Linked DNA regions of Homo sapiens: region 1 is linked to region 2. Evidence: fine-mapped expression QTL. Tissue or cell type: tibial nerve. Region 2 holds a variant in brackets; the other region holds the start of a gene. All regions are shown on one strand. Distances are from middle to middle.

Region 1 (2,755 bases), 40 kb before region 2:
CAAACTAAAAGTACACTTTGGGGCTGGGCGCGGTGGCTCACGCCTGTAATCCCAGCATTTTGGGAGGCTGCGGCGGGAGGATCACTAGAGGCCAGGAGTTCGAGACCAACCTGGCCAACATGGTGAAACCCCGTCTCTACTAAAAATACAAAAAAATTAGCCGGGCGTGGTGGCACGCGCCTATAGTCATAGCTACTCTGGAGGCTGAGGCAGGAGAATCGCTTGAACCCGGGAGGCGGAGGTAGCAGTGAGCTGAGATTGTGCCACTGCACTTCAGCCTGGGCAACAGAGTGAGACTCTGTCTCAAAAAAAAAAAAAAAAAGTGCACTATGGGAGGCCATGGCAGGCAAATCGCTTGAGCCCAGGAGTTTGAGACCATCCTGGGCAGCATGGTGAAACCTCGTCTCTACAAAAAATACAAAAATTAGCCAGGCGTAGTGGTGCATGCCTGTAGTGCCAGCTACTTGGGAGGCTGAGGTAAGAGGATTGCTTGAGCCCGGGAGGTCGAGGCTGCAGTGAACCAAGATCGCACCACTACTCTCCAGCCTGGGTGACAGAGTGAGACCTTGTCACGGGAAGGGAAGGGAAAGGAAGGGAAGGGGAGGGGAGGGGAGGGGAGGAGAGAAAAAGTAGATTCACCATTCGGTCCAGCAATCCCACCACTGGGTATCTACCCAAAGGAAAAGAGTCATTATATGAAAAAGACACTTGCACACGAATGTTTGTTTTTTGCAGCCCAATTCACAATCGAAAAGATATGGAACCAACTTAAATAACCATCAACCAATGAGTGGATAAAGAAAATGTAGTTGATATACACGATAGAATACTACTCAGCCATAAAAAGGAACGAAATGAAGTCTTTTGCAGCAACTTGCATGGAGCTGGAGGCCATTATTCTAAGTGAAAGTGATTCAGGAATGGAAAACCAAACACTGTATGTTCTCACTCATAAGTAGGAACTAAGCTATGAGGACGCAAAGGCATACAGAGTGATATAATGGACAATAGGGAGAATGGGAGGGGGTGTAACACACACACACACACAAAACCCTACACATTGGGTATAATGTACACTACTCGGGGGACAGGTGGACTAAAATCTCAGGACTTACCACTATACAATTCCTCCATGTAACCAAAAACCACTGGTACCCCAAAAGCTACTGAAATTTTAAAAACAAACAAATATTTGCACCCGAGGCGAGCACCTCATTCGCCTCTCGCTCTCTCGGGCACCTCCTGGAGCCAGAGGGTCCCATGCGGCCAGCTCCTCCGTGGAAGCAGTTGAAGTTATTCCAGCAGCGATCAGGCCACCGAGGATGTCCGCCCAGACAACCACCCGCGACGGGGAGACTCGCTCCGCCTGTGTCCGCCCACCCTCCTCCCGCGCGGGACACACCTGGCGGGCGCGGCACTCCCTGTCCGCGGCCACCTGGCGCGCAGCTCCCGGCGCCGGGCCCGCCCCTCGCGGCTCTGCCGGGGCTCCCGGCCGGCCAATGGGAGCGCGGTATGCAAATGAGCAGGTGCGGTGGCGGCCCGCCCGGAACGGCCGCGGGGCTCCCGGGATGTTAGAGGCGCTCAGGGTGGCAGCAGAGCAGACGCCGGGCTGCGCGCTGGGAGCTGCGGTCTCCGGCCATGGCCCCCGCTCCGCCCCCCGCCGCCTCCTTCTCGCCCTCCGAGGTCCAGCGGCGCCTGGCGGCCGGCGCGTGCTGGGTCCGCCGCGGGGCCCGCCTCTACGACCTCTCCAGCTTCGTGCGGCACCACCCGGGGGGCGAGCAGCTGCTGCGGGCCAGGGCGGGCCAGGACATCAGCGCCGACCTGGACGGGCCGCCGCACAGGCACTCGGCCAACGCGCGCCGCTGGCTGGAGCAGTACTACGTGGGAGAGCTCCGCGGGGAGCAGCAGGTACAGCCGGGCCGGGGCCCCCCACCCCAACCCAGGCCTCCGTCAGCCTTCCACTCCCGGGCGAGCCCCGTTCACTTGCCCTCTAGCAGGACCCAAGGTGACAGCTTCTGCCCTCCCTTCCCTCGCTTTCCCTCTCTTCTCTCCAGGCAACAGGTCACTGTCGTCCCCTCCAACCCCTCCTTCCTCTCTCCAGGAACTTGCTCTTCCTTTCCACCCTTACCGCCTGGCCCGCCTCCGTGCCAGCTCTCCCATTTCCCCAGCACCCCTCCTTCCAGCGTGTTCCTTCTGCAGCCCCTGCCCTCCGACAACCTGGATTCCCGTTTCTGTCCCCAGCCCCCCATACGCCTCGGCTTTCCTTCCTCTTCACTTATCGGCCTCTCCCTCTTTGCAACCACTCTCCGTTTCTGTTTGGATAATGGGCTCAACCTGTTCCCACCTCCCCATCCCACCTCACTTCTGCTTCAAAGAGGCACAGATCAGTAACTCTTCTCACTAGCTTGGGTTTCCTGGTGCCGCCCTGGCCTTGCCTGGGCCATGTCTGGGGTGGACTGTGTCCTCCAACCTCTCAGACCTTCCCTTATATTCTTGTCCTACACGCTGGCTTGGGACTCCAAAAGAGTGAAATGAAAGGCATGAGCCAGTTTTGCCAAGGAAAAGGGACCAGCACTTTGGACCAGACTGTGTGCTGAGCTGCACGCTTCTGTGCAGTACCAGCTCCCGATGGTATTTAAGTCCTTAACTCAACCTGGGGCAGGTTTTGTTATTCCCATTTCAGGATATGGAATCTGAGGCTCAGGGAGGCTCTGATTAATGCGCCTAAGGTCAAATAGCTAAATAGTGGGAAAGC
Region 2 (2,755 bases):
AGAGGAGCTCAGCGGTGCTCAAAAAATACCCCAAGGCAGAAAGCAGGCAGGTGGGCTGGGCACTGCCCTCTGCTTCCGTGGGTCTTAGAGGACACCCTGGGAGGGCAGTGGACAGGGCAGGCTGGGAGGCAAGAGATGCCACAGTGTTCCAGTATGATGCAGAAAGCTATTCCCTCTATCTTTTTTATTTTTTTAGAGACAGGTTCTCACTCTGTTACCCAGGCTGGAGTACAGTGGCAAGATTGCAGCTCACTGCAGCCTCAACCTCCCAGGCTTGAGCCATCCTCCCACCTCAGCTTCCTAATTAGCTGGGACTACAGGTGCATACCACCATGCCTGGCTAATTTTCTTAAATTTTTTTGTAGAGATAGGGTCTTGCTATGTTGTCCAGGCTGGTCTCAAACTCCCAGCCTCAGTGATCCTCCCACCTTGGCCTCCCAAGGTGCTGGGATTGCAACCCTGCATCTTATTATTGCGTAGGATTATCTGGAGGATCTAGTGGAATGTACTAAAGGATATCAGAAAGTGTGCTGCAAGGGAAAGACCACCCTACCTGGTTTTGGGGTGGGGCCCCTGGGCAGGCTCCCTTCGCTCGTCTTCAGCCCTAAGGGCAGAGGTCATGCCTGCTTTCTGCCAGCGCTCAAGCTGTCTTTCATCTCTCCCTGTGTCTCTGGCATTTTTGCTCCCTATCCACTCTCCGCTGCCTGAATCCTCGTGGGGTGAGCCTGAGGCCACCTCCCTGTCCTCACATCCCCTGGGTGACGGGAGGGTCATAGGGCTCAGGGGGAGGAGGCAGGTGATCCGGAACCACCTCTGTGGACTTCAGCTTGTCCCAGTTAGACCGCGCAGGACGGGCCTGCAGCCACTCCGGCAACGCCACCAAGAGCCCCACCTCACTGCCCCCACTGACCGCTGCTGGCTGTGAGGAATCACAGCCGTTGTGCTGAGGAAGTCACAGCCATGGGATCCCAATCTGGCTGACAGGAGGCCTCCTGGCCGAGCCTGGGCTGTGAGTGGGGCACTCGAGTCCAGGCCCTGCCACAGCATATGCAGCCGAACATCTGACCCTGTCTTCTCATCTGTCAAAAGAGGTCATCATCGGCCCCAACTCCCAGAATTAAGGCTCATGAAGGATAGGGGATGTGAGGCCTGAGCCCCAGCTGACCAGCGACCAGGTTGCAGACAACCGGCCCCCACTCCTCTCCCGCAGCCCCGGCTGCCTGGAAGCCTGTCTCCACCTCTGCTCAGAAAGCTGCCCTGGGG[C/A]AATATGCCTGAGTTTGGGTGGACATTTCTTTAAACAATTGCCTTAGCTCATCGCTGTGGGGGTGAGCAGTGCTGCTGACACTGAGCAGCTACCCTGCCCCCGCCGCCTGCCCCCGCTCACCACATTTGCCACCTTAGGGAGAAGCAGATTCTGGGCACACCCTTCCCCAGGAAAGCGTCCTATGCCACCTGGCCCTGTGCTGCCCAGGAGGAGGGGTCCTGGGGAGGGGGAGGAGGAAAACAGGGAAGGCCCCCTTCTACCGGGGCACCATGCCCTTCCGCCCACCCTCTGGGCAGCAGGCTGCCCTTTCCCCCTGCCGTGCTGCTGTGGGCCACATTCCTGGCATAGCCTGGGAGAAGCCCTCCCCTTCTCTCTAAGGCAGGGACCGAGCAGGCTGGGGGAGGGGCATGGACCCCACACAGTCGGCACAAGGTGCTTTGGCCGAATCCACTCCCCCTTGCATCTGCTTCCTGGGCCCCGGCCCGTTGGTCGGGTCTTTGAATCACCAAAAAATCCCTCCACCCCAATGAGCTGCTCATTCCAGAGCAGTTTCGGGCATAACCGTGCTGTCGCCCATGCAGGCCAGCTTCCTCTGGACGGCCCTGAGTGCTGGACATGCCTCTCTAGCGTCGGGTTCCACTGCTGTAAAAGGGGACTTGTTACTGTAGGGGGAGCCGTGGGAGCCCCCAGATGCCTGGGAAGTGGAGGCATCATCAGTGTGGCCTGATCTCCCCTTCTCCCCCACCCGAGCCACGTACATAGCCCACAGACCCATGCCTTCCCTCTGTCCCCCGAGCCTTGGGACATAAGAAGTAAATGGGGCCCGGACCAGGAACGAGCTGGAAGGAAGAGACCCACTAATGTGGTGGGAGTAGGAGAGGGGTCTTCGGTCAGGTAGAAGAGGGTGGGTGGAAGGGCGTGGTGCCCAGGTAGAAGGGGGCCTTCCCTGCTTTCCTCCTCTGCCTCCCCAGGACCCCTCCTCCCAGGCAATACAGGGCCAGGTGGCATAGGACGCTTTCCTGGGGAAGGGTGTGTCCAGAATCTGCTCCCCAAGGTGGCAAATGTGGTGAGCGGGGGCAGGCGGGGGACGGGGCAGCTGCTCAGTGTCAGCAGCGCTGCCCACCCCCATGGCAATGAGCTAAGGCAATTGTTTGGTCAGGTAGAGCAGGAAGCGAAATGTGTCTTGCATCGCTTCCCATCTCATTGGATCCCAAGCCGTCATCGTCTGCTGTCCTCCCATCTCAAAACCCGGTCCCGCCAACTGCCATGTTGGAAACGACCAGCAAGTGAGAGGCCTGGAACCTCTCAGCACCCAGCTGAGCCTTTCTCCTTCAGTGCTCACGACTGGAAGATGATTAAGAAAGGACACCCTATCAGTGCATGTACCACCTAAATCAAGGTCAAGTGCACAGGGTGCCAGTCCCAGCTCTTGGGAAACTGTGTGGAGGCTGCTACAAGCTGGGGGAAGGGGGAGGGAGGCTTCCACTTCAG

The links. PIP is the estimated chance that this variant, and not a neighbour inherited with it, causes the effect.
Region 1: FA2H starts here. The variant in region 2 is fine-mapped to the expression of FA2H in tibial nerve (GTEx, PIP 0.98).

What each region holds. Positions count from the first base shown.
Region 1 is chr16:74,773,639-74,776,393 of GRCh38, reverse strand. FA2H (fatty acid 2-hydroxylase) reads left to right here and starts at 1,574. Exons shown (of 7, transcript NM_024306.5): 1 at 1,574-1,908. The coding sequence starts at 1,639. RefSeq lists silencers at 1,268-1,327, 1,338-1,467, 1,478-1,847, 1,888-1,937.
Region 2 is chr16:74,733,423-74,736,177 of GRCh38, reverse strand. All of the region lies in intron 2 of FA2H (fatty acid 2-hydroxylase), which reads left to right. Among named protein-coding and RNA genes, the nearest start is that of MLKL, 34 kb to the right of the region's middle. RefSeq lists an enhancer at 2,124-2,683. The variant C/A (reference allele first, on the strand shown) is at 1,264.